7 linked regions of the Homo sapiens genome follow. The protein of the gene in region 1 interacts with the protein of each later gene in a biochemical or structural test. Each region holds a gene or a part of one and is shown in the gene's direction. Other genes may lie near its edges.

Region 1 (3,500 bases):
TTCAAGCTTATCACATCAGGAATCCAACTAAATGAGTTAAAAAATAAATATTGGTTTAATAATGTAAACATGTGATTGCTGTATTATTATAATGGAATAAAATTAACACGATTTAATGAACTGAGCGACCATTAATTTTTACTTGTTAATTTATTAGGAGATTTTAATGCCATTTGATGCACAGTACAGCCATTATTCTGCGTGAGCTCCTTAATGAAATAAATAAGACCAAGCAGGGCTTGCTTCAAATTGGAATCAGCTTTCATTCCTGTTAACCTTATTCTCCCACCTTTATTCACCTCTCCTTCAGCTTCCTGTAATTGCAATTAAGTTCTCTAAGATTGGAATGCAGTTTTCTTAATCAGCAAGTCTCATCAATAGTCCTAATTGACTTTTGCCCTTTTCTCCTTTGCCATATTGACTGATTAAAACAAAAGCAAAACTTAAAGACTCCATTCCCTCCCCCAAATCCCCATCTCATAGTGTTGGTTGGCTGGCAAGAGAACTGCCCAAGAAGGCTGCTCATGATGGCAGCCTGCTGAATGTGCAGGGGGTGGAAGTTCACCAGCCATGTGCAGACGTGAATGGCTGGTGCAGTGTTGGATGGGACTAACTCCTCCCTAAGGAGGGGTATGACCTTCTGTTGGCCTCTGACAAGTCCCTGAGCCATGGAGCCTTCAGTCTTCCCATCTTCAAGCACAATGGTTCCTGGAAACAGTGGGAAGTTGCCATCCTAAGCCCACCCTACAGAAGTTTGGTTTCTAATTTTACTGTGTTCTAAGCTTTAGAACCGAGACAATTCCAAGAGAACTTGTCCAGTTCATTTTTATGCCTTCCTTTAATGCCGTACCAGGTGCTAATTTCTGTGCCAGATAATGCGGACAAAATAGTGAATAAGGCAGATACTGTCCCTGGTGCCTTCTGTAGCTTCTAGTCCACTGGCTGTGAAACACAGGTTCTTTGGAGTTGTAAGAATGCTGTATGTGTTCACTCTTTAGCTAATTTGTAAATACTGTTTTTTTGGTGCCAAACCACATCCCCCAAGCTCTGCAGTTTATTGACTTGACAAGGATCTCTCTCTCTCTTTCTCTTTCTCTCTGTATAACATAATCCTTTGTTTCGACTTAACAGTTTGAGAAATAAACAAATCTATAGCATACTATCCACTGTTGGTTATCTAAGACCCTTCCTATAAACAGCAGCCTGCCACAGTGGCAACTGCTGTAGAATGTTTTGGCAGAGACTCAGTTTAAAATGAAAACACAGTAGAAGCCTATTAATTAAGAAGTTTGGCTAATTCTGGACTAGGCAAAAGTTTGTTTAGCAGGCCTTTTTGCCCCATAAATGCTGTCAAAGAAAAATTAATAAACAAGAGTTTGGGGATTATTTTGGAGGTAGGAGTCAGCAGACCTTGGTAGGTTCTAGACGTGGCTCTGTTTCTGATTAGCTGTGTGACCTGGGACAAGTCACCTTCTTTGGGCCTCGAATGTTCTCAACTGGAAAATAGGCTAGATAAACTCTATTGGAGGGCCTTTCTAACTTGGAATTGGTATTCATACAAGCATTTTATTTTATTTTATTTTATTTTTTGAGATGGAGTTTCGCTCTTGTTGCCCAGGCTAAAGTGCAATGGCGCGGTCTTGCCTCACTGCAACCTCCGCTTCCCAGGTTCAAGTGATTGTCCTGCCTCAGCCTTCTGAGTAGCTGGGATTACAGGCATGTGCCACCACACCCGGCTAATTTTGTATTTTTATCAGAGACCAGTTTCGCCATGTTGGCCAGGCTGGTCTCCAACTCCTGGCCTCAAGTGATCTGCCCGCCTCGGCCTCCCAAAGTGCTGGGATTCCAGGCCTGAGCCACCGCGCCCGGCCACATACAAACATTTTAAAAGCTCCCAGTTGCACGCATCTAGTTGATCAGTGAATGACAGATCTTTCTTAATTATTGATGTTCCAAGACTCTATCAGCCTGGTGTCAATTAATTTACATAAGTAAAAATAATAAAATTGTAATTCAGCCTTTAATTTTGGTGATTTCCCTCCCTCTTCCTTGCCTCTTCCTTACTCTGTGAGTCTAAATCAGTGAAATTTAACTACAAAGGAATATGAAAATAATGCTAGGATGAAGATGTGGAGGCTGTGCCTCTTGAGATGCAGTGAACAGTTTTTCTTCTTTTGTTGCTATTTTTGACTATTCTAAGAACAGGAAGTTTACTTAAACTAATGACCACAGATGCCTAAAAATGGTTAAATGTAAGAGGTAGGCATTATAGAGGATACCTGTGGAAAATGTTTGCTCATATGTCAAAGTTTACCCAGGAAGCTTCCTTTATTTATTTCCAAGCATCTATATAAAGAAAGGCTGCACTTGATTGCGTAAGCATGAGCCTTTTGTTAGGCAGCGTGGATGTTGCAAGTTTAAACCCCAACTAGGAAATGAAAAGTGAGTTTCCTCCTAAATAGTTCTTTTTCAGTATCACATGGCTCTCCCAGCTTACATCTGGCAAGTTTTTCTCTTGAGTGCTTTGCCGGTAGTTTAGGACTCCAGTATTGTATTGTATTGTTTGTTTGTTTCTTTATCTCTGTCTCTCTCTTTTTTTGTTTTTTGAGACGGAGTCTTGCTGTGTCGCCCAGGCTGGAGTGCAGTGGCGTGATCTCAGCTCACTGCAACCTCCGCCTCCCAGGTTCAAGCAGTTCTCCTGCCTCAGCCTCCCATGTAGCTGGGACTACAGGCGCCCGCCACCATGCCCAGCTAATTTTTGTATTTTTAGTAGAGATGGGGTAGGACTCCAGTATTAAGAAACACTGTGTATGGCTTTGCCTTTGAAACCTACAGAGTTATGAATCTGGTCCCTTTTGCTGCTAAGTGTTGCATCACAAACTGCCAAGCCAAGTTGTAACTCTGAGGTGTCACCATTTTTTTTTTCTTTTCAACTGGACATTTGAAAATAGTAATGCTTTTTGGGTGTGTGTTTTTTAAAGGTCTGTTTTTACGCTGTCACTGCTCAAAAATGCCAAAAGGCATTTTTTCCTTAAAAAATCACCTCTGGGCTAAGCCCAAATGTGGAGTAATGAATCCAGAAAGGACTTTTTGAGTAGTTACAAGTGGCTGAAAGCAGGCACTGGTGATGGAAATTGGGTTTTTCCTTTTGCTTCAAATCTTCCTGGTTGTAAACTTTTTCTTACCCTTATTGAAGTCAGACTCAAGGTGGGTCTAATTTCTCCCAGCCCATGGGAAGGCAGAGTGAATTACTGCTTGTTGTGCCAACCCTTTACATTTTGTGTGTGGCTGTTTGTCTCTACCCAGACAGGTTCTTCACATATTACCTGGGGAGCAGGAGAGGGGGAGGACAGGAAGAGCACAGTTGGGCAGAAAGAGCAAAGCCTCTCAAGTCTGATGGGTTTGGGTTTGAGTCTGACAGTTATTAGCTATGTGGTGACCTTGGGTACTTTGCTTCAACTTATTGAGCCCCAGTTTCTGCATCTGTAAAATGAGGATGA
Region 2 (4,118 bases), on another chromosome or scaffold:
CAGGATTGACTTCAAGCCAGTGCTCAGTGTAGAACTTGCTTACAGTTGGACTTGTCCCGTGCTGAAGTTTGTGCTCAGAGATTATATTTCAAAATGTGGAATGCCCCTTTTGATATTTGTGATATCTTGCCCCCAAGCTAATTAGGTGCTGTACTTTTTTTTTTGTAGAGACAAGTCTTGCTCTGTCGCCGAGGCTGGAGTGCAGTGGCACGATCTCGGCTCACTGCAACCTCTGCCTCCTGGGTTCAAGCAATTCTCCTGCCTCAGTCTTCCGAGTAGCTGGGACTTCAGGCGCCCACCGCCATGCCCAGCTAATTTCTTTTGTATTTTAGTAGAGAGGGGGTTTCACCATGTTGCCCAGGCTGGCCTCGAACTCCTGAGCTCAGGCAATGCGCCTGTCTCTGCCTCCCAAAATGCTAGGATTACAGGCGTGAGCCACCATGCCCAGTGGTGGTCTACTCTTACATGTCTGTTGGAGGCCACATTTGCCAGATATTGTTGCTCCCGTCTTTTTTTTTTTTTTTTTTTTTTTTTTTTTGAGACAGAGTTTCGCTCTTATTGCCCAGGCTGGAGTACAATGGCGCGATCTCAGTTCACTGCAATCTCCACCTCCCAGATTCAAGTGATTCTCCTGTCTCAGCCTCCCAAGTAGCCGGGGTTACAGGTGCCCACCACCATGCCTAGCTTGTTTTTTGTATTTTTAGTAGAGATGGGATTTTACAGCCTAGCCGGCTGGTCTTAACTCCTGACCTGAGGTGATCCGACCTCCTCGTCCTCTCAATTGCTGGGATTACAGGCATGAGCCATGGCGCCTGGCCCGCCCCAGTCTAATTATTAGTCTGACATAAGTGTATTTTGGATAAACTACTTTTCCTAATATTCTTGCTCTGTGTTTATGTGAAAAACATCTGAGAACCATGATAAAGGTTTAAAAAAAAAAAGATGATGGATTAATTTACTTAACTGAAACAATGTGCTGAGGTTTGGTTAACACTGAAACCATCCTTCGTCTGGGATGTAATCCCTTTTTGTCCCAGAATTCACTGATTTGAATACATTTTCGATTTTAGGAAGGTGTGAGTTTCTTTCTGATCTTTTTGCTGTGTTATATTTTGCAGTATTTGAATTAGTGTTTGTGGTGTATTTTGATATTGCTTGTAATTTTATGTGAATTTGAGAAATTTAAAGGAATTTAAGAAAATTTCAAACACCCATACTTTAAGAAAGATTCTTTTCTTTGGTTCATATTTAATACGTACTTGAGTGGTTGTTTTATTATGCTTACCACTTCACGTTTTAAAAACGTACTCAGAACATTGTGAAGTACACTTATTTTTTAGGGTCTGTGAGGAAGGTGAATGACAATATTTCCACCTCTTAGATGAGTCACATGCTCCTGGTTGTATAACCAGAATCAGGAGTTGAATACAGGGCTTCTAACTCGAAGTTTAGTAATTTTTCACTATTTGCCCCTGAAGCACATGTTAGTAGCAGAAACTGAATTTTGAGAAACATTAACTTTTCTTATCAATTTACCTTAGTACAGGTTGAGCATCCCAAATCCAAAATCTGAAATGCTCTAAAGGCCAAAACTTTTTGAATGCTGACATGGCACTCACAGGAAATGCTCATTGGAGTATTTCAGATTTTGATTTTTGGATTTGGGATGCTCAACTGCCATATCGTGCACATATTCCAGAATCTGAAAAAATCAGAAATTCAAAATACTTTTGGTCCCAAGCATTTCTGATAAGGGATATTCAGCCTCTATGATGGTTCTCAAACTCTGTTTTAACCTGCATATAAATTTAAATACTAAGGTATTTAACTGAGAATGAGATAGTCCTTGACTGAGGAACAGTTTTTATTTTCTTCTGTGAGTCATTGAGTTGGTTGCCAAACAAGCCAAATTGACCCAGAGGGAGCTCATTTTAAAAAGTCAAACTAGGCTTTTTTTTTTTTTTTTTTTTTGAGATGGAGTTTCGCTCTTGCGCCCAGGCTGGAGTGCAATGGCGCGATCTTGGCTCACTGCAACCTCCGCCTCCTGGATTCAAGCGATTCTCCTGCCTCAGCCTCCCAAGTAGCTGCAATTACAGGCGTCTGCCACCATACCCAGCTAATTTTTTTATTTTTAGTCCAGACGGGGTTTCACCATGCTGGCCAGGCTGATCTTGAACTCCTGACCTCAGATGATCCACCTGCCTCGGCCTCCCAAAGTGCTGGGATTACAGGCATGAGCCATTGCGCCTGGCCTTTTTTTTTTTTTTTTTTAAGACTGTACTAAATATATTAACGTGTTATGTAAAGGACCTGATGTTTGGTGTGAATACTGACATGATTTGACATGCGTATATAGTTTATGTAATCAAAGTATTGCTTTTGGATTAAAAAAAGTCCTGAAACTCAGTAAGTTGTTCGAAATGAAACAACTTAATTATTTTACAATTATAAAATATGTAATATATTAATACATTTTAATGTTAATAAGTTGTAGTATCTTGTAAATTATAAATAATTTGAAATGAGACAACTTAATTAAATATAGCTAATAACTCTTTCTTACTCAAGTCGCCATAAGAAATATACTTGATTTTAGGCCAGGCGCGGTGGCTCATGCCTGTAATCCCAGCACTTTGGGAGGCTGAGTTGGGTGGATCACCTGAGGTCAGGGGTTCGGGACCAGCCTGGCCAATATGGTGAAACGCCATCTCTACTGAAAATACAAAAGTTAGCAGGGGATGGTGACACACGCCTGTAATCCCAGCTACTTGGGAGGCTGAGGCAGGCTTGAACCCAGGAGGTGGAGGTTTCAGTGAGCCGAGTTCACACTGCCCTTCATCCTGGGTGACAGAGTGAAACTCTGTCTCAAAACACACACACACACACACACACAGACACACACACACACACACATACTTGATTTTAGATCTGCCTATGTTGTTCTACAGAATGTTGTCAAGTTACTTACCTGATACGAGCTTTTTGTGTTTTTTATTGGAATAATCATTATTTTACTTTAAACTGTATAAATACATGCAAACATCACATTCCTGATTCTTTTTCACATCTTCAGTGGATATTCAGCAAAATCAGAAGTAGATCAAATATATGTAAACAAAAATAGAAAATTAAAATAAATTTGATCTAATTCTAATTTTGTTGAATATTACGTTTGTATGAAAAAAAGATCAACAGGCAAATTAATCATTTGTAAATAAAATTTGAAGAGTAATGTTTACTTAAGATTATTTTCAAACATATTGGAAGTGGTCATTTGTTGTAGGTGATTCTTCACTTTTTTTGTTTGTTTGTTTGTTTTTTTTGAGACGAGAGTCTCGCTCTGTTGACCAGGCTGGAGTGCAGTGGCGCGATGTCAGCTCACTGCAAACTCCACCTCCCAGGTTCACGCCATTCTCCTGCCTCAGCCCCCTGAGTAGCTGGGACTACAGGTACCCATCACCACGCCTGGCTAATTTTTTCTATTTTTTTAGTAGAGACGGGGTTTCACCGTGTTAGCCAGGATGGTCTCGATCTCCTGACGTCGTCATCCTCCCAAAGTGCTAGGATTACAGGCGTGAGCCACTGCGCCTGGCCGATTCTTCCCTATTGTAGCATGTGGCTGACAGTCTCCACTTTACTAAGTTAAGAACTATATATACCCTTTTTTTTTTTTTTTAAATTGAGATGGAGTTTCGCCCTTGTTGCCCAGGCTGGAGTGCAATGGCGCAATCTTGGCTCACTGCAACTTCCGCCTCCCAGGTTCAAGCAATTCTCCTGCCTCAGTGTCCCTAGTAGCTGGGATTACAGGTGCCTGCCACCACACCCAGCTAATTTTTTGTATTTTTAGTAGAGATGGGGGTTTCACTATGTTGGCCAGGCTGGTCTCGAACTCCTGATCTCAGGCAATCCACCAGCCTCAGTCTCCCAAAGTGCTGGGATTACAGGCGTGAGCCACCGTGCCTGGCTAAAATTTAAACTTTTAACATTTAGACTGGACTACTCTTAGGTAAGTAAAATATTTTAGTTTTTAATCTACTTAGGGGGGAAAAATCTCTATAGATTACTTATGATACAAACAGATGACCTAAAGATAGCAACTTAAAAAATTTTTTTTCCCT
Region 3 (4,118 bases), on another chromosome or scaffold:
AACAGTCTTCAAAACTGCCATACTGAATATGTTATGTGAGATACGAATTTTTATTGATCTTTTTTATCCAAAGAGCAGTGAAAGTAGTAACTGAATAGAAGTAGTTACAAAATTAAAGATCTCAAATGATAAGTGAATATAGTAGAAAATAAAAGGTTGCCCCCACACTCCAAACATACTCTCCAGGGTGTATCTCAAACACTCAGACCCTTTTCCGTACGTAAACATGTGTTTACACATAATAGGTATTCTGCAACTTTTAAATTTCTTATTTATGTCTGCATAGTACCCCTTCATGGAAATGCCATAATTTAACCATTTGAGGAGCGTCCATGTTATTTCTTTCTAAATAATGTTTTACAATATTGCATTGTACAACTCTGTAAATACCTGAGTATTGGTGAATAATCTTTCTCTTGCCTTTTAAAACAGCAAAAAAGAAGAATAAGAAGGGGAAGACTATCTCCCTAACAGACTTTCTGGCTGAGGATGGGGGTACTGGTGGAGGAAGCACCTATGTTTCCAAACCAGTCAGCTGGGCTGATGAAACGGATGACCTGGAAGGAGATGGTAACTTTTCTTTTGTCATCGTGTTTGGAATGTTTATTATTTTCTAGACAAAACCTATTACATAATAATTCACATCGTTTGTAATCTGAAAAGAACTTACTCATTTTTTAGCACCTGAAATCTTACATATTTTATAGAATCTAAGGTTTAATCTGAGGTTTGGGCTGTCAGACTTTGCAGTGAAGACTGAAGTGGTCATTTAAGAGAGCTTTGCTAGTTCTTGTTCTTGCATTAACAGACTTCTTAAGTTACTATTCTTTTGGGCCTCATTTTCTTCATTTTAAAAGTAAGAACTAGATCATCTTTTAAAATTCCTTTTAGGTCTAAAATTCTATGGGGTCCTCATAAAGTGATGTTTCAGGCTGCTCGCGATGGCTTACACCTGTAATCCCAGCACTTTGGGAGGCCGAGGTGGGCAGATCACATGAGATGAGAAGTTCAAGACCAGCCTGGCCAACATGGTGAAAACCCATCTCTACTAAAAATACAAAAATTAGCTGGGCGTGGTGGCATGTGCCTGTAATTTCAGCTACTCGGGAGGCTGGGGCAGGAGAATTGCTTGAACCTGGGAGGCGGAGGGTGCAGTGAGCTGAGATCATGCCACTGCACTCCAGCGTGGGAGACAGAGCGAGACTCCATCTCAAAAAAAAAAAAAAAGTGATGTTTCAGTGTAATCTGTAAGCTATGTTTACTCAGAGCCAAGGAATAATTAGTTCCAGGTGTCATTAGTATAAAATCAGAGTGTCCTTGGGTAAACGAAAATGGTCTGAGGAAAAGGAGTGAGAACAGTAATTATGGTGGGAAAATAAAGAAGAGTCAATTGGACAAGTTCTGTGCCTTCAGGGAGTCGCCAGGAATAATAAGGAGCTATGTTTTATAATGACCGGGTATGACATAAATCTCATTACCATTGTTTTTTTCCTGAAAATCGTTTATTGCATGCTGAAAGAATATTTTTTCCTATGACCTGTTTTCATAATTCCTAAAAACAGGAAATTTTTTTTGAGACAGAGTCTCTATTGCCCAGGCTGGGGTGCAAGTGGCGCACTCTCTGCTCACTGCAACATCTGCTCCCGGGGTTCAAGCGATTCTCCTGCCTCAGCCGCCTGAGTAGTTGGGATTACAGGTGCCCGCCACCGCGCCCAGCAAATTTTGTATTTTTAGTAGAATCAGGGTTTTACCATTTTGGCCAGGCTGGTCTTGAACTCCTGACCTCATGACCCACCTGCCTCAGCCTCCCAAAGTGCTGGGATTACAGGCATGAGCCACTGCACCCGGCCAAAACAGGAAATTTTATATAGGTCGTACTTCCCATAGGTGTTGGTATCTGAAGTACAAATTCATGGACAGTGCTGTAGGAAAAGATTTTTGTTGTGATATTTTTGTTTGTTTGTTTTCAGATGGAGTCTCACTCTGTCGCCCAGGTTGTAGTGCAGTGGCACAATATCTTGGCCCACTGCAACTGCCGCCTCCCGGTTCAATAGATTGTCCTGTCTCAGCCTCCCAAGTAGATGGGATTACTGGCACATGCCACCACACCTGGCTAATTTTTGTATTTTTAGTAGAGACAGGGTTTCACCATAATGGTCAGGCTGGTCTCAAACCTGACCTCAGGTGATCACCCACCTTGGCCTCCCGAAGTGTTGGGATTATAGGTGTGAGCCACCGAGCCAGGCCTGTTGTTGTTTTTAAGGGAGGATAGACCATGCAGAAAAATACTCAACTTCAAACTCACCACTAGGAATACAAGAGTTGTCAGTAGTGGTTAAATATACCTGGAGTAAGAGGGACCCAGGTTTGAATCCTAGCTTTACCGTCTGTGACCTTGGGCAAATTACTGTCTGAAATCTGAGTTTGCTTTTCTGTAGAATGGGGGACAACCTCACAGGACTGTTAAAAAGATAAGATGGGATATAATGAATATAAAGTAGCTGGCACACAGTAATATTCCATAAAGAGTTGTATTTATGGAATAATATTTCTTTGCTTACATAAAGATTAAGGTGTCATAATTAATCTCAGAAGCTTCTCTTCGTAAAGTGCCCTTATTACTGAACCCCCACTTTTTTTGGTCTGGTTTTCTTGTATAGCATGTTTAATATTTGGCAATTAACATGGGTCCTCTTGTTCTATGACAGTAGTGAGAGAAGTTTCTTCTAATTTCTTACATTCATTCCTCTATCCTAGTTTCGACCACTTGGCACAGTAACGATGACGATGTGTATAGGGCGCCTCCAATTGACCGTTCCATCCTTCCCACTGCTCCACGGGCTGCTCGGGAACCCAATATCGACCGGAGCCGTCTTCCCAAATCGCCACCCTACACTGCTTTTCTAGGAAACCTACCCTATGATGTTACAGAAGAGTCAATTAAGGAATTCTTTCGAGGATTAAATGTAAGTGTAAAAGTTGTAATAATTAACTAGATATTGAGGATAATGTCTAAAAAAGACTAATTGTGGAATGGGCAGTTGCTGTTGAAAAAACAACTAGAAATATAATTTAAGGCCGGGAATGGTGGCTCACGCCTGTAATCCCAGCACTCTGGGAGTCTGAGGCGGGTGGATCATTTGAGGTCAGGAATTCGAGTCCAGCCTGGCTAACGTGGTGAGACCCTGTCTCTACTAAGAATACAAAAATTAGCTGGGCGTGGTGGTACACGTCTGTAATCCCAGCTACTTGGGAGGCTGAGGTAGGAGAATTGCTTGAACCTGGAAGACGGAGGTTGTGGTGAGCCGAGATTGCGCCATTGCACTCCAGCCTGGGCAACAAGAGTGAAACACCATCTCAAAGAAAAAAAATAAAATCAAAATTATATATATATATATTTTTTTTTTTTCTTTTTTTTTTTTTTTTTTTTTTTTGAGACAGAGTCTCATTCTGTCATCCAGGCTGGAGTACAGTGGATTACATGCCCAGCTAATTTTTTGTATTTAGTAGAGATAGGGTTGCACTATGTTGGTCAGGCTGGTCTTGAACTCCTGACCTCAGAGGATCCACCTGCTTCGGCCTCCCAAAGTGCTGGGACTACAGGCATGAGCCACTGCACCTGGCCTGAATTAATCTTTTTTTTTTTTTTTTTAGAGTTAAATTCATACAGTTCAAAATTCAGAAGGTATAATAGGGCATTTAGTAAAGTTTCTACTATCCCTCTGCATCAGTTTTCCTCCTGAGACAACCATGTTCTTGTGTATTCAGAAAAATTCATGCACATACAGTAATGCTTTTGTAGTCCTCTCAAAAAATGACAAATGAAGAAGAATGCTGGGAAACTTTGTTGTTGATTCTTATTCCTTCAGATCAGTGCAGTGCGTTTACCACGTGAACCCAGCAATCCAGAGAGGTTGAAAGGTTTTGGTTATGCTGAATTTGAGGACCTGGATTCCCTGCTCAGTGCCCTGAGTCTCAATGAAGAGGTAAAGAAAATAAGAGTGGGGATATGAGGGGTGTAAGTTCACAAATCTCATGTTTATTGATCAAACTGGTATTTTTTAGGTTGAGAGGCTCACTTCAAAGATTCCCATATCTACAAATAAAGGCCTGCATTA
Region 4 (4,118 bases), on another chromosome or scaffold:
TCCTGGAGACTTGAAGGAACCCTGGCCATCCATCTTCCTTTGTCCTTCCATCAGAAACAAACTCCTTCCTTGAAGCTCCCCCCGTTCTGAGTCCCAACTTTACATATAGTTACTATGATGATAATGACAACTAAGATTGATTGAGCTCACCCTGTACGTCATGTCAGGTCATGAATTAAGTCATTTCATTCCCAGAGCAAGCCTATGGAGCAGGTGCTGTTAGGCCTTACTTAATAGATTTGAGGTCCGGTGCCATGGCTGATGCCTGTAATCACAGCACTTTGGGAGGCCAAGGTAGGCAGATCACTTGAGGTCAGGAGTTCAAGACCAGCCTGACCAACATGGTGAAACCCCATCTCTACTAAAAATACAAAAATTAGCCAGGCGTGGTGTCGGGCGCCTATAATCCCAGCTACTCAGGAGGCTGAGGCAGGAGTATCACTTGAACCTGGGAGGCAGAGGTTGTAGTGAGCCAAGATCGCACCACTACACCCCAGACTGGGTTACAGAGCGAGATTCTGTCTCAAAAAAATAAAAAATAAAAATAAGACCTTACTTTACAGATTTGGAAACCAAGGTGGAGGGAGGGTGCTGTGAGCACAGCCAGGTGTTGTCAGCTGTTCTGGATCCTAGCAGGCCCTCCATGTTTATCCTGTTCTTCTTTGTATTTTACCTATTCAAGTTTCTTCCTCCTCGACTAACTGCAAATTTTTCAAGGACCATGTATAGGCCCACCCCTGGAGCGGCCAGCACAAAGCCTGACACTCATTGGGTACTCAGAAATTTTTGCTGCATTGATTTGCATGGGAGGTAGGGAGGCCAAGAGATTTTGAACATGGATTTTCGGAGCCACTGAGAGCCTCCCCTCTGCCTCTTACTAGCTGTGTGAACTTAGGCAAGCTGCCTAACCTCACTGAGCCTCAATTTCCCCCTCTGTGAGATGGACGCAATAAAGACACTACTAACCTTGTGGATTGTTGTGAGAATTAGGTGACAAGATGCCTGTGAAATTCAAACCCAAACCACATCCGCCTCCAGCCCCTCTGGTCCTGGGTCTCTGCCGTTACCAGTGTCCTTCCTCAGGGTTAAGCTGTATCACTTGAGAGTTTATCAGGCTCCAGTTTCCTGTGTGACCTCTCTGCTGGAGTAAAATTTCTAGTTTGTTCTCCTGTGTCAAGCTGTGTGGCCGTGGGCCAGTCAGTCCCTTCCCTTGGGCCTGTGTTTCCTGTCCTGGCAATCCAAGGGGTTGGACCAGATGGTCCCTGCAGCCTCTTCCTGCTCTGGCCATCTGAGAAGGGAAGGAGGGGCCACCTGGACACAGTGAGGGATGAAGACACAAAGAAGCGACTAGGGAGCCGCATACGGGACACAGTGACCGCTCTGTCTCCCGAGCACCCAGGGTGTGCCAGGCTCTGTGCCCTGTGAGGCTGAACACTTCTTACCATTGTCTCACTTTATCCTCCCAACCCTAGGAGATATGATTATCCCCATTTTTCAGACAAGGCACTGGGGCACAGAGAGGTTAGGTGACATCCTAGGGTCACACAGCCCAATGGGTGGTAGAGCCAGTCTTCTAACCAAGGAAGGAGACACGTTGGAGCGGGAGGGGTGACACAGCTCAGGCAGCCTTCTAAGTCCTACCTTCTGGACTCTAGGGTTTGGTTTTCCTAAGTTAGCTGTTTCTTTGGGCTCTGCACCTAGCCCATCCAAGGAACTCTGCCTGCTGGGGGCCTTCTCTCCCCTCCCACCCTTTCGAGGTGAACTCTGACTCAGCCTAGCCTCATCCTTGGGCAGGGACATCCTGAAGACTCAGCGAGGCCAGGGGTGTGTGGCCGTGTCCTAGGTACTGAGATTGTGAAAATCTCCCCTTTCCACAGTCCTTGCCCTCAAGAGCCCATAATCTAGTGGGGGAGATTTTTGTTGTTGTTGTTTTAAAGATGGGGTCTCGCTCTGTCACCCAGGCTGGAATGTACAATCTAGTAGGGGAGATTTTTTTTTTTTTTAAAGAGACTGGGCTGTGTCACCCAGGCTGGAGTGCAGTGGCACGATCTTGGCTCACTGCAACCTCCTGGGTTAAAGCGATTCTTGCTCCTCAGCCTCCCAAGTAGCTGGAATTACAGGCATCCACCACCATGCCTGGCTAATTTTTGTATTTTTAGTAGAGACGGGGTTTTGCCATGTTGGCCAGGCTGGTTTTGAACTTCTGACCTTAGGTGATCCAAAGGTCTCAGCCTCAGCCTCCCAAAGGGTTGGGATTACAGGTGTGAGCCACTGTGCCCGGCCTAGTAGGGGAGATTGACAGGTAACCTTGCAATTAAAATGCAGTGTGTGCCATCAGGGTACAAGTGTGGGACACTGTGCATGCAGAGTTTGAGACATGTACTCCCAGGGGAGGTGACATTTGATCTGGGTCTTGAGAGATGTGTAAAGGCCTGGAGAGCCCTGCGAGCTGCTCAGTGTGTCTGCAGCAGTACTGTCCACTAGAACTCTCTGGTAGAACGGGCAGTTCTGTGTCTGCACTGTCTGATACAGCAGCCCAGGTGGCTGGCAAGCACTTGAAATGTGGCCAGTGCAACCGAGGAGCTGAATTTTCCATTTTATTTCATTTTAATTAATTGCAATTTAAATAGCCACGTGTGTCGTATTGAACAGCACACGTCTGGACCAAGAGCTAGGACTGGAGAAGAAAAGGTTGGGGCCAGCAGTAGAGCCTTGAATGTCACCCTAAGGCTTTGTGCCTTTCTTCCCAGACAATGTGGAAATCTGCAGACTGGCACAATGGGGAGAGTGAGAGGGGGAAGCATTTATACATCTGCCCTTTAGAACAATCACTGCAGCTGCTGTGCAGGGCACTTGGAGCAGCAGGAGAGCTAGAGGCAGGGAGGAGCCTGGGGCCACAGCCCAGAAAAGAAGTGATAAAAACCGAACCAGAGGCAGCACGCATAGAGAGGAGAGAACAAATTCCAGAGCAAACCTAGTGACTGGATTGGTTTGGAGGCGGTAGGAATCAAGGATGACTCTCACTCCGAGGTTTCTGGCTGGGATGGAGTTAGGGGAGGGGTGCACTTCACTGAGATGGGGAATATGGGGAGAGGAGCAAGTTTGGGATCTCCTAACACGATCGCAGCATTCCCCATGATGTAAGTGTCTGTGTCCCTGACTGTCACCCCAACACATGCACACCTCGTGGCATCACGTTTAGGACTCACACCTCATCTCTCCCCATCCTTGACACAGCACCATGTGGGGCCCAAGGTCTCAACACATGTTTGTGGAATGGGCAAATGAGTGTTCTGATTCTCCCGGGATCCAGGAGGAAGGAGCAAGCCCGCTGTCCTTATTCCCTGACTGCAAAATCAGGGAGGAAATGTCCAGGTTTCTCAAGTGCCCTGAGCAATGTGAGGAAGGCAGACTCCAAGGCAGTTTCTCAGAAATCCTGAAGAGCTGCCTGGGTGGCTGGGTCTTCTGTGGACCCATGGGGGCCACCAGGGGGAGAATTGTAGCACTTGGCCCATCTCCTCAACATCTGCCTCTCAGCCACACTGTGTCCCAGGCTGGATAGCCCAAGGCTGTCAGAGGCACCTGAGGAGCGGTCTTTCTACTCTCTTAGGCAAACAAGATTCCTCTGCTCCGAGGACTGTATCCGCTCAAGCTGCACACGAATGTTAGGAATGACTTTCAGCTGTTAGTAACAGAGCCCTGGCTGAAGTAGCTGCAGTCAGATGGGGTGCGTTTCTCTCTCATGTAAGACAAGTCTCTAGGAAAGGACTCCAGGTGGGTGTGCTGCGGCAGGTTGCACTGGCTCCTGAGAGCTGATTGTGTGCATCTCATCCCAATGCCAAGTCCAACTACTACTTCACACTGATGGCTTGAAATCCACTTGAGTGGGAACATTTACACCATGGAAATTGGCACTGTTGGGGATTTAAAAAAAAAAGTTTTTCTCAGACAGCCAGCTTCCTAGCATGTCACTGAGTAAACCGATGGTGTGGCAGCCCCACAGTCATCAGGGACTCGGGCTCCTTCTTCCTTCTACTCTTCTGGTTTCAGCTTGTGACTTTGGTCTTTACAGTTGCCTCATGGCCTGAGATGGCTGCCAGAGTTCCAACAATTGCATC
Region 5 (4,118 bases), on another chromosome or scaffold:
GCATACTTTGTGCATGCAGCAGGTAAGTGCGATGGTGAGAATTCCTCCCACTTTCTTGTGTGTGTTTCTTTCCTGATGGCCTCCGCGTTATGCCGGATTCTTCCTGAGCTCCCCAAGTTGCAGGCCACGTACATGAAGCCAGTGTGGTTTCAAAGATTGAGAGAGGTGCCACCTTCATTCAGGTGAAAAAGCATAGCTTTGAGCGAATTCTCACTAAGTTCAGCTCTTTTGGTAAGTAGTGTTTTCAGAGGCGTTGGTAATCAGATATGTGATATGTTTAAATCACATTTTTTGATGAGGGGATGAGAGAAGCCTCGTGAAAACCCTTTTAATAAAGAGTATATTTTAACTGACAAATGATCTAGTTTAAAAGCATTTATTTTGGTATTGAGGCAATATTTTTAGTTGGTTTTCTGCTGGGAGTGTTTTTAACCTACTGAGGCCTCTTGAACCCCTTGCCAATTAAGAAGTTGGAGGTAGATTACTATCAAATTGCTGATCATTTAGGAAGGAAAAATAATCACATTAATACGCAGACTTAGTAGCTTTGTATTTAGGAATTCTTAGTGTTGTCTCAGATAGCTAAGGGAAACAAACCAGCTCTTTCAGTAATTGATGGAGAGGTTAATATTAAAAATAACCAACCTGTATATTGCATGAACACATTGAAAAATTGCTATTGATAATTGATGTAGTGAGTTGCTTTGATTGTAAAATCTTAAATTTTTTTTCTGTTTTTTCAAGGCATGTCTTACCTGTGCATGTTTCAGTGTTTAGAATAGCATGCAGGATAAAACTATTGAGGACTGGATAAAATAATGCATTTTTACTTTGTTCCTTTCGTCTTGTTTTAGACAAAAGGCTCATTGTGCTATGTGAACGCTCAGGTCTTGTGTAACTTGTTGACTTTATATATGTACATATCGGTCTTGCTAGATTACCTTCATGGCAGTTACTTGAGCCAGATGGAAGAAAGAGGGTTGTGGAATCCTACCAGTAGGTTGTTTTGGGGTTCAAATATTTAACGTTTTTTTTTCTTTTTTTTTTTTTTTTTTTACAAAGGAGAGATGTTACCTGTAAAAACACTGCACTTTTCTTCAAAACATTTTTAATTCTAAAAATGTTAGTGAGTTTTTAAAGAAGCCAGCTGATAGCCTGTTCTCTATTATTTTTCTCAATATATGTTTTAGAAAGAGAACTTTTGTTATCCATCTGCCCTTACATAAGAAACTGGAGAAATTAGCTTTGCAAGCATGTCACATCATCATTTGCATTCTGTTGGCAGGGGATAGATGAGTATTTTAGAGGATGTGAGCTGTAAGTGTTTCAAATATTTGGGTTTTCAAAAATGTATACTTAATTATAAGAATTGCCTTTTGCTTTAGCCAATTCTGGGTAGCAAGAATGAAAAGTCAGCACCTCTCAAGTGACCTCTAAGCAGGAATAAGTAGCCCTTTTTTAACCCACTCTTAACCCTGTTGTTGTTCATTTGTTTTGTTTACTGAAAAAGTAAAGTTAAAATTTTTAAAAAATGTGTCTGCATATGTTAAGCACAGCAAAACGCAAAAAAAGTATAGGTGTTACAGGTGCTTTCAAGAAGCACTCTTTAAAATCTTGTTTTTACCTTTTAGATATTTAGAAAAATATAACCTATAAATTATCCCGAATAGATGACCAACATCGAAACTTGAAAGTGCCAACAGGTGATGCAGATCATGATGTGTGCTTCCATATAAGATAACATCAAAATGAAATACCTGTGAAGTTTTTGTCGGTGTAAGCAGTGTCCATTCTAAGTTTTCGTCTTAAACATTTCTCTGTTATTTAAAGAAATGCAATCTTTTCGCTGTTCTCATTACGTGCCTTCTTTTTCGTCGTTGGTTTGTTACTGTGCTATTGCTCCCAATCCTTGAACTAACACAGTTGTTGGTTGTTGCAATGCCTGAAGGGGTTATGTTGGTAAAATGACATTTAGAAGGTTACTTAGGAGAGTTAGCATCCTTATTGCTTATGAAAGATTTATTGACAGCAGCATAGATCAGACTACTCTTCGGTTTGGTTTTCCTGATGTATCCCAGAATCCCTTGTTATGCCTGAATGCCAGCCAAATGTTTGGCCATTGGTTTTCACGGGACCGCAGTAATGGCTGCTTCTCTGTGCGCGCAACAGGAAGACTGTAAAAGAAAATATTAAGGGTCTTTTGTCTGAAAATATTTCAAATTTGATTTAAGAGATTCAGAGACCTGTTATTTGTGGAAGGGAAGCTGCCAATACAAATATGAGGTAGATCGGTCAACTTACATACAACTGATTTGACAAGCATCTGTTATAATACTGAAGATTTGTAAACACTAAACAATGTTTTTACCTCCTTAAAAGTTTTGAGAACTTGCCAGTATTGGCAGGAGGCAGAGACTCTGAAACGTGCTTCAAGATACATGCCAAAACCATTGTGGCCTTTTCACCTATAATGCGTTTTTTCTCGCTCTTTCTTTTAAATTGTTATATTTTTTTCCTTTCCAGAATGCCTTTTTTTCCCCCTAGATGGTCATAGAAATTAGATCTTCTTTTCCTTCTGAAATTTGTGTGTAATAATTCTTGCTTTATGTGTCCACCTTTCTTTGGTAGGAAGTTGAAATCTCAGAACATACGTGAGAATACTAGAAGCAAATGCAGAATCAATCTTTTTTTTTTTAAAGCGGAGGTGATTTATTCTAAGACTTATTGACATGCTAAAATATAATACATAAACTACATTCCAGTTTTTTCCCTCTAAATCCAGTGGCATTAGAACTGTGAATTTTGTGGCTGATAAGCAGTAACAAGTGTAATGAAATTGGAGTGATTTCATAAGCCTGAGAATTTCATCTTGTTAAAAGAACAAAACCATTTTATGCCCTTAATTTGGTCTCAATTTGAGTTGTCCTTCCCATGTATCATATGACAACTTGGGGATACTATGGTATTGTGGCAAATGGTTTTCTTTGTGGGTGTGTAACAGTAAAGCTAATTTATGACCAGTCTTTACCAGATGATCTGTATCAGAATCTACAATATACCCGGCACGTGGCAAGGTCACAATTTAAGTTGTTAAGGTCATAACCTTAGCCACCAGGCATTTGACCTTTTAGATAAAGTTAACCTTTGTTCATTAGTAGGCACTCAACCGAGAAGTTTCTGGAGAGTTGTTGTTTTTTTTTTTTTAACCACTTCTGTATAAACTTCTGGTAATGTAATCAGATTCTAGAAAGATTCTCAGTCAAATTAGTTAGATTTTGTGAAAGGTTATACTTTTTAAGGACTCATTTCTTGGATAGAGGCAGGTTGCTATTTTTAGGCCATAGAATGACAGTTTCACAATTTATATTTGATATTATTACCTGCCATGGGGTAGAATAAAAGCTTGGAGGCAGCTGTGTGGGGACATTTAAAATCTAAAATTAAACAAATTAATTTATGTTTAATTCAACTAAGGCCTTTGCTAATTTTCAAGTGACATTAGGCCTAAAAGCTAAATCACAGTGAGCCATCTTCACTTTTTGCAGATGAGGAATTTTCTAACATTAGAAGTATTTTTAGCAGTCTTAAAATTCAGTTTGAAAGATTAATAAGTGACCACAATTTGTCAGGTAATTGCTTTAATTGTTAATTAGCCAGTGACAAAGCAAGTTGCTGTTGTCCTAATGGCAGCAGTATGAGTACTTGTTAGTTTTAAGGTAGAAAGAGAACACTTTTGCACGGTAATCTTTTAGTGCAGTAGTTACTGATTGCTTCCATGCTGCTACCATTATTACCTTTACTTAATTTTGCTTGCATCAGGAATAGCAAAGATCCTTTCAATCACTGAAGGAGCTGTTTCAGTGTCTCGGAAGCCTGATACCTGTCCTATAAACCTACTCAACAGTATTACTGATTACCACATTACCTGTACCATATTGTTCACTTAATTATGCTGACATGAATGCTCATTTCAAATTATTTAGATTCTTGCTAGTTTTGTTCTGCTGTACCTCATATTATTCCATTTCAGCCAAAAGAGAGCTACTCCCATTCAGGTGCATTTTAGTTTTATTTTGGCTTCGTGATTGCCATTCCTTCATATAGTAATAGAGAAAGCC
Region 6 (4,118 bases), on another chromosome or scaffold:
AGCAGGCAGGCAGGCATCTTCTCCCCAACACACATTCCAGGCTTCTGGAGTCCTGGCAGTAATAATAGTAAAAACAAAAACTAAAACATAAAGAGAGGAGAATTTATATTGTAATCAAGAGACTGTTCCTTTAGTGAGACTCGTGTGATCATCTTCTTGGTACCTTTGCAAGTTTCCTCCCTCTCCCTTGTGTCTCCTCTTACCATGCTTTCTCCCCAGACAGCTTATAACCTGCAACTCATCTTGATTTGCAGCCAAACTGATTATCCACCAGACACTCAGCGTCTTAGAAGATATTGTGGAGAATATCTCGGGGGAGTCCACCAAGTCTCGACAGATTTGCTACCAGTCGCTGCAGGAATCTGTTCAGGTCTCCCTGGCCCTCTTTCCAGCTTTTATCCATCAGTCAGGTAGGAGCTGGCCCAGAGGCCCCACTGGTGGGTGGTGCTAACAAGGGCCAGAATACCCACTTAGATCTGTAGAACACACTGAGTCGGTGCAGTACAGGCCTTGACTTGTTCCGTGCAACGAAACCCGGTACTGAGGGGAAAGGGCAGTGATGTTTATTTGTGGAGTCTAGGGCCAAGGCCCTTTGGAAAAGTGAGCAGAGCTCTCCATATGGGCCTTGGCACCTACAAGAGAAGGCAAGAGAGCTTTTTTGGCTTAGTTCTCCTTATTTTGTGGCAAGGTGCATTTGCCGAGATCGTTCCCCTCACCCTTGTCTGTCACTGTCAGTGATAGAGGGCCTCTCTAGCTCTGTGGATGTACTTGCCTAGCTCTCATGACAGCATTATAGTAGTCTTGTCAGTTTTACAAGAGAAATATCAGGCACTTCTCAGTCAGCAAATATTCATTGCCTCTTGCAAGCAGATTGCGTGCAGTTAGGGCTGAAACACACTACACAAGATGATTGTTGAGATCTGGAAGTGAAACTGCCCTATATGTAACCAGTATTTTCTGCAATTAATCCATTTAATGGACCAGGGCCATGCAACCTAAATACACCTTCATTATCCACTTTCAACCACTTAACCCCTGACCCAGCTGCAGGGATTATTAGTCATAGGGGGAAATGGCTTAAGCACTCAGGTGTTGACCCAGTTGGCATTCATCAGTGTGGGCACAAAGTGATCCCTCTCCAGTGAAACTCTGACCATCACTGGATGTCGGGCAATGAGGGAGGGTTCGAGATGACCTTCATTTCCTGTAGTGAGCCACCAGGTGGAGGTTCCCTATACCAGAACTATTTTCTCAGCATGTCCCTAATCGTTTTCCACTTTCCATCATTGGCCCTGATGGTGTTGGGGAAATGTTTCCAGCAGGAAGCTGTAGAGAAAGCTGATAGTGCAGATTTCAGGAGTAGGTTGATGAAGCCCAGGGTTCTGGTTCTCACTGTGTGCAAGCCTCTGACGATATCTCTGCCCCTTTCCTCAGATGTGACTGATGAGATGCTGAGCTTCTTCCTCACTCTGTTTCGAGGCCTTAGAGTACAGATGGGTGTGCCTTTCACTGAGCAAATCATACAGACTTTCCTCAACATGTTTACCAGGTAAGCACAGACCCACCATCTATAGTTTTCAGATTCAAGGGAGAAGTGGTGGGTCTGGCGACAAAGTGTGGCTTTTTGCTCCTGTTCTGCACTTGCCACAGCATGGGTTTTCATGCTGGCCCCCAGAGAAACATGTGGTTGCTCACTGTGTGGCTTTCTCCTCTGTAGAGAGCAGTTAGCCGAGAGCATCCTCCACGAGGGCAGCACAGGCTGCCGGGTGGTGGAGAAGTTTCTGAAGATCCTGCAGGTGGTGGTCCAGGAGCCAGGCCAGGTGTTCAAGCCCTTCCTCCCCAGCATCATCGCCCTGTGCATGGAGCAAGTGTATCCCATCATTGCCGAGGTAGGGGCTCAGACGGTCCCCTGTGCAGCACCCCCCATCTCCAGATTGGGAAGGGAATGAGATTTCACAGAAAATGTATTGTGTTTTAAAGTTCATTTGTTAGTTTAATATGCTTGTAAAGTAGTTTCTCCCAAGGAAGAAGGCCTTTAGTGGTGTGGTACAGTGTTTTTATATTGATTGAGTTCATTGGAGCTAGTCTAGTGTAAGCATGGCAGTTATTCCACAGGGTCAGTTGCTAAGATCAGTCTCCTGCGGCAAATTTTATACCTTTAAGAGACTCTGGTTTTCTATAGCAAACATTCTAACATATGTACTTTCCTATTAGAAACATTCATGGTCTCGAGGATACAAGGCAAGTTCTTGAAACCATTCAAACAAACCTTTCAGTGTTACAGGAAAGCCCTTTGTCCTTCTTAGAAAATAGGCAGGCACTCAGCATAATAAGACCCGGAATAAGTATAGATTTAATTTCAGTTTTTTTGGTAATAGTCGTATAAATAAGAGTTAATCTTTAACTGTCTGAACTGAGACTGGGACAGGTCTGGTTGCTGTGCATTACGAAATGCACTGGGCCTATGAGGCTTCTTCTGTGGATGCTTGTGGCCCCTGGTGTCTATTTAATTTTAATCAAGGCTGAACTGAATATATGTGGGCCTTCTAATTTTGAATTCTGCAGAGACATTTGGAATAAGGGATTGGGGGAGTTGGAGTCAATGAGAAAACACTGCTGAGCCTGACCCTTCTCCTCTAACTCCTCTCAGAATCCTGGCTACTGGGAAAGAGGAGACTGGCCCAGAGAGCCTGGCTCCCAAGTGTTCTTTAAACCCTCCCCTTCTGGGGAGCAGAATCGCTTTAAGGCGTTGGGTCTGTCTTTAGCCTCCGTGGTTGTGTAAGACCAACAGGTTAGTGGGACAGCATTTTTTATCCTGGGAAAAGGAACAAGCAAGAAGATCTGACAGGTCGAATAGAACAGGAAATCCATACTCCTAATTGTTCATCCACTTGGTAGCTTTTTTCTAGTGTAAAAGCTGAGTGCTCATCAGAAAAAGGGGCCCTTGGCACTGACCCGTGCATTCTCTCTCAAATGTGGGCCATGTCTCTCCTGAAGAACTCGCGGTGTGAACCGCCAACTCCAGGGGCTAGATGTCTTTTGCACAGGCAGTGACAGGACTCCAGGGGCTGGATGTCTTTTGCGCAGGTAGTGACAGGCATGTGGATGGAGTGTTGACACTCGGCTTGCTGTCACGAGGCGTCTCCTAGGCATCTTTGCTGCCCTGGGCCCAGGCCGGAGCAGCTCCGCAAGCTGCAGGTCTGAGCGTCTGTGTGTCTTTGCAGCGTCCCTCCCCTGATGTGAAGGCCGAGCTGTTTGAGCTCCTTTTCCGGACGCTCCATCACAACTGGAGGTACTTCTTCAAGTCCACCGTGCTGGCCAGTGTCCAGAGGGGGATCGCTGAGGAGCAGATGGAGAATGAGCCCCAGTTCAGTGCCATCATGCAGGTAACGTGGGGGCGGGGTTGCTGCCAGGTGACTTCCTCTAACCTGACCACTGCAGCGAGTCCTGTCTTCGAAGCCCCACAGTCTCGGGTCTGAAGCTCAGTTCTGCCTGTTAGTATTGATGAAGTTAATTAATTTCTTGGAGCCTCAGTTTCTTCATCTGCAAAGTGGAGCTAATGTTGCCTGGGTCACAGGTTTGTTGTGAGGTTAAATGAGATGACATACACAAAGTGCATGACACTTGGAGATGCTTGATAAACGTCAGTTCCGCTGACCTCATAGTGCTGTTTCCCCAAGTGTAAAGAGCCTGCCTATGCCAGAGTCACCGAGGGCCTTCTTAGCGGGGAGCTGCCTGAATATGAGTCTCCGCAGGAGGGCCCCAGACCTGCACTGTGATTCTGACTCTGACCATACTGGGAGAAACACTGCCCTGGGAGGGAGCATTCGCTTTCAGGGCAGATGCAGCTGTCCATTGGAGAGAGTGCACTGTCTGGGGGCTAAATACCCCTTGCTGTGGAAGACTGGGACGGCATCACCTCGCCCAGACAGCCAGCCTGCTCTGTGGCTGTGTCAGGCACGCTCCCAGGGTCTGCACTCAAGTGTCTGACGTTCTCATCTGAGTCTAGCTAGGGGAGTCTCTTTTGGTATTTTCAGTGCATGCTTTTCCTCATGGGGAAGCAAGAGGGATTTCCACCCTCCCTCCAGCTCCCTACTAGCACACAGCATGCACACAGG
Region 7 (4,118 bases), on another chromosome or scaffold:
CCTGCTAGGTAGTTTTTCTGTCTCCCCCTCCTCCCACTCTCCACCCTCAAGAAGGCCCTGGTGTCTAGTGTTCCCTTCTTCATATCCATGTGTGCTCAATGTTTAGCTCCTGCTTTTTTTTTTTTTTTTTTTTTTTTTGAGACGTAGTCTTTCTCTGTCTCCTAGGCTGGAGTGCAGTGCTGCGATTTCAGCTCACTGCTACCTCCACCTCCCAGGTCAAGTGATTCTCCTGCCTCAGACTTCTGAGTAGCTGGGATTACAGGTGCCCGCTGCCACGCCCGGCTAATTTTTGTATTTTTAGTAGAGATGGGGTTTCACTATGTTGGCCAGGCTGGTCTTGAACTCCTGACCTCGTGATCCACCTGCCTTGGCCTTCCAAAGTGCTGGGATTACAGGCGTGAGCCACTGCGCCCGGCCTCTTTTTTTTTCTTTTTGAGACGGATTCTCTCTTTGTTGCCAGGCTGGAGTGCAGTGGCACAATCTCTGCTCACTGAAACCTCTGCATCCCAGGTTCAAGTGATTCTCCTGCCTCAGCCTCCCGAGTAGCTGGGACTATAGGCGCCCGCCACCACGCCCGGCTAATTTTTTTATTTTTAGTAGAGATGGGGTTTCACCATGGTGGCCAGGATGGTCTCAATCTCTTGACCTCGTCATCCACCCGCCTCAGCCTCCCAAAGTGTTGGGATTACAGGCGTGAGCCACCGTACCCAGCCTAGTTCCTACTTATAAGTGAGAACATGCAATATTTGGTTTTCTGTTCCTGCATTAAATCGCTTAGGATCATAGCCTCCAGCTCAACAATCTTTAAAAGTGAAAATTTGGCCAGGCGCGATAACTCATGCTTGTAATCACAGCACTTTGGGAGGCCAAGGTGAGTGGATCACCTGACGTCGGGAGTTCCAGACCAGCCTGACCCCGCCTCTACTAGCAATACAAAATTAGCTGGGTGCAGTAGTACATGCCTATAATCCCAGCTACTCGGGAGGCTGAGGCAGGAGAATCACTTGAACCCAGGAGGCAGAGCTTGCGGTGAGCCAAGATCGTGCCATTACACTCCAACCTGGGCAACAAAAGTGAAACTCTGTCTCAAAAAAAAAAAAAAAGTGAAAATTTACATGCGTGTATATGTAAGTAAATATTAATTGTGCTATATACATAAAATTTGTGTACTTTAGAAAGTAATATCTCCAATTTTAAAAATGTGAATGAGACCGGGCATAGCGGCTGACAATTGTAATCCCAGCACTTTGGGAGGCCAAGGTGGGCAGATTGCTTGAGCCCGTAAGTTCTAGGCCAGCCTGGGCAACATAGCAAAATCCTGGTCTCTACTACTAAAAATACGAAAAAAAAAAAAAAAATCGCCAGGCGCAATGGCTCATGCCTGTAATCCCATCACTCTGGGAGGCCAAGGTGGGTGGATCACCTGAGGTCAGGAGTTCGAGACTAGCCTGGCCAATATGGTAAACCCCATCTCTACTAAAAATACAAAAAAAGTAGCTGGGCGTGGTGGCAGGCACCTGTAATCTCAGCTACTTGGGAGGCTGCAGCAGGAGAATCGCTTGAACCCAGGAGGCAGAGGTTGCAGTGAGCCGAGATCGTACCATTGTACTCCAGCCTGGGCAACAAGAGTGAAACTCCATCTCAAAAAAAAAAAAAAAATTAGCTGGGCGTGGTGGTGTATGCCTGTAGTCCCAGCTACTTGGAGGCTGAGACAGGAGGATCACCTGAGCCTGGGAAGGTCAAGGCTGCAGTGAGCTGTGATCCAGCCACTGCACGCTATCCTGGGTGACACAGTGAGACCCTGTCTCAAAAAAAGAAAAAGAAATGTGATTGATCAGCTCTTTGCCTAAAACTTAGCTAACTGTGTGCTTTGCAGACATTGTCTGACTCATAGTCTTGAGAATGTTTCTCTCATACAAACATTGAAATGAGATGCGTTTATTCACAGCACATCAGGAACAGAAATGGGACTAAGACCTAGGTTTCTAGACCCAAAAGTCTGAAAAACGGGCGTGGTTTTAGTGTAACATCAATGCTTTGAGAATCAAAGTACATACTCAAACTTTCCTAAGAAATTTCAACTGGAAGGGACTGGATTTTCTCCAAATTCAACAAAATGATGGATGACAAAACCAGTTTCTTATTGGCTAGGGTCTAGGCTAGATCATCTCCAAGATTCTTCCCAACTCTAAAATTTTATTCTATGAGATAGTGGTCTCAGATGAGTTTGTTTCTAGACCGTCCTATGGGATAAAGGTTTCTCTAGATGTTCTTCAAGGGCTTGGGTTGGGGGTGCTTCTCATGAACTCTTTCATGTCATTCCCTGTGTCATAACCCTCAGGTTGAGGAGCCTTCGAGACCATCAGCGTCCTGGCAGAACTCTGTGTCTGAGCGGCCACCCTACTCTTACATGGCCATGATACAATTCGCCATCAACAGCACTGAGAGGAAGCGCATGACTTTGAAAGACATCTATACGTGGATTGAGGACCACTTTCCCTACTTTAAGCACATTGCCAAGCCAGGCTGGAAGGTAATGTGTCCCACAGCAACCAAAATCAAGGTCAGCCCAGCCTGACAGTCTCTCCAGTGCTGTACTGCAACTTGTATCTGGGACAGCAGTTAAGTGCAAAGGACACTAGAATGATAAACAAATGTATCTTTTAGATTGTGACTCAATCTTATTGAATCCAGGCAAAATCATTAAGAAGAGCTCCTTAACTACTTCATGTGTTACTACCTAAAGTCCATGGAGGGTCTTCAATGTAGCACTCAAGCCCACTTTTCTGCTACACTCAACAGCCGTCCTAGATGCCAGCAGCTAGAGTGGCTAAGTAGTTTTATGAAAATGTCTTGATTAAAAAAAAAAATGCTGTCTGTGAGCCTCATGACCCAAGATGTCATCTCCTGTAGCGTCACATAGCATTTCTAGTGGGCAGGGGTTTTCCTTTCACTTCATTCATGGAAAGACCGAGATGCCTGTGAGTCAACATAGCTCACGCAGTTGGTCGGTGTCAGAGCCACAAATGAGGTCTTCTGACGGGTGCTCAATTCCAAGTCAAGTGTGCTTTGTTTTCCTCATGGTAGAACTCTTTCTTTTTTTTTTTTTTTTTTTTGAGACAGAGTCTCGCTCTGTCACCCAGGCTGGAGTGCAATGGCAGATCTCAGGTCACTGCAACCTCCTCCGCCTCCAAGGTTCAAGCGATTCTCCTGCCTCAGCCTCCCGAGTAGCTGGGACTACAGGCATGCGCCACCACGCCTGGCTAATTTTTTTGTATTTTTAGTAGAGACAGTGTTTCACCATGTTGGTCAGGCTGGTCTCGAACTCCTAACCTCAAATGATCCACCCGTCTCGACCTCCCAAAGTGCTGGGATTACAGGCATGAGCCACCACACCTGGCCCCTCATGGTAGAACTATGTTTTTTTTTTTTTTGAGATGGAGTCTCGCTCTGTCACCCAGGCTGGAGTGCAGTGGCGCGATCTCGGCTCACTGCAAGCTCCGCCTCCTGGGTTCACGCCATTCTCCTGCCTCAGCTTCCCGAGTAGCTGGGACTACAGGCGCCCGCCACTACGCCTGGCTAATTCATGGTAGAACTTTTAATTTTACTCCCTTCCATCAGCTTACTTTCCTAGTTTTTTGTTTGTTTGTTTTTTGAGACAGGGTCTCACCCTGTTGCCTGGGCTGGAGTGCAGCCTCAGCCCCCTGGGCTCAAGCTCTTCCCTCCTCAACATCCCAAGTAGCTGGGATAACAGGTGCACCACCACAGTCCGCTAATTTTTTTTTTGTAGAGACAGTTGCCCAGGCTGGTTACTATGTTGCCCAGGCTGGTCTGAACTCCTAGTCTCAAGCACTCCTCCTGCCTTAGCCTCTCAGTGCACTGTGATTACAGGCGTGAGCCACCACACCCAGCCTTAATTTCCTAGTTTCTTGTTTGTTTGTTTGAGACGGGGCCTCACTCTGTCACCCAGGCTGGAGTGCAGTGACATGATCTTGGCTAACTTCAACCTCTGCCTCCCAGGTTCAAGTGATTCCCCTGCCTCAGCCTCCCGAGTAGCTGGGACTAAAGGCATGCGCCACCATGCCTGGCTAATTTTTATATTTTTGATAGAGACAGGG

The links.
Region 2: the proteins of SMAD3 (region 1) and SKIL form a complex in vitro, tested with the Homo sapiens proteins (one study listed by BioGRID).
Region 3: the proteins of SMAD3 (region 1) and EIF4B form a complex in vitro, tested with the Homo sapiens proteins (one study listed by BioGRID).
Region 4: the proteins of SMAD3 (region 1) and TRIM62 form a complex in vitro, tested with the Homo sapiens proteins (one study listed by BioGRID).
Region 5: the proteins of SMAD3 (region 1) and NFIA form a complex in vitro, tested with the Homo sapiens proteins (one study listed by BioGRID).
Region 6: the proteins of SMAD3 (region 1) and XPO6 form a complex in vitro, tested with the Homo sapiens proteins (one study listed by BioGRID).
Region 7: the proteins of SMAD3 (region 1) and FOXM1 form a complex in vitro, tested with the Homo sapiens proteins (one study listed by BioGRID).

What each region holds. Positions count from the first base shown.
Region 1 is NC_000015.10:67,072,102-67,075,601, forward strand, and holds part of SMAD3 (mothers against decapentaplegic homolog 3), read left to right. Parts: intron 1-3,500. UniProt on the Homo sapiens protein: Receptor-regulated SMAD (R-SMAD) that is an intracellular signal transducer and transcriptional modulator activated by TGF-beta (transforming growth factor) and activin type 1 receptor kinases.
Region 2 is NC_000003.12:170,363,803-170,367,920, forward strand, and holds part of SKIL (ski-like protein), read left to right. Parts: intron 1-4,118. UniProt on the Homo sapiens protein: May have regulatory role in cell division or differentiation in response to extracellular signals.
Region 3 is NC_000012.12:53,016,041-53,020,158, forward strand, and holds part of EIF4B (eukaryotic translation initiation factor 4B), read left to right. Parts: intron 1-432; coding exon 433-570; intron 571-2,757; coding exon 2,758-2,966; intron 2,967-3,869; coding exon 3,870-3,986; intron 3,987-4,118. UniProt on the Homo sapiens protein: Required for the binding of mRNA to ribosomes. Functions in close association with EIF4-F and EIF4-A. Binds near the 5'-terminal cap of mRNA in presence of EIF-4F and ATP.
Region 4 is NC_000001.11:33,168,207-33,172,324, reverse strand, and holds part of TRIM62 (E3 ubiquitin-protein ligase TRIM62), read left to right. Parts: intron 1-4,118. UniProt on the Homo sapiens protein: E3 ubiquitin ligase that plays a role in antifungal immunity by mediating 'Lys-27'-linked ubiquitination of CARD9 downstream of C-type lectin receptors; leading to CARD9 activation, followed by activation of NF-kappa-B and MAP kinase p38 pathways.
Region 5 is NC_000001.11:61,088,659-61,092,776, forward strand, and holds part of NFIA (nuclear factor 1 A-type), read left to right. Parts: coding exon 1-22; intron 23-4,118.
Region 6 is NC_000016.10:28,103,814-28,107,931, reverse strand, and holds part of XPO6 (exportin-6), read left to right. Parts: intron 1-254; coding exon 255-410; intron 411-1,434; coding exon 1,435-1,549; intron 1,550-1,717; coding exon 1,718-1,889; intron 1,890-3,224; coding exon 3,225-3,386; intron 3,387-4,118. UniProt on the Homo sapiens protein: Mediates the nuclear export of actin and profilin-actin complexes in somatic cells.
Region 7 is NC_000012.12:2,866,978-2,871,095, reverse strand, and holds part of FOXM1 (forkhead box protein M1), read left to right. Parts: intron 1-2,341; coding exon 2,342-2,533; coding exon of another isoform or gene 2,534-2,578; exon of another isoform or gene 2,579-2,882; intron 2,883-4,118. UniProt on the Homo sapiens protein: Transcription factor regulating the expression of cell cycle genes essential for DNA replication and mitosis. Plays a role in the control of cell proliferation. Also plays a role in DNA break repair, participating in the DNA damage checkpoint response.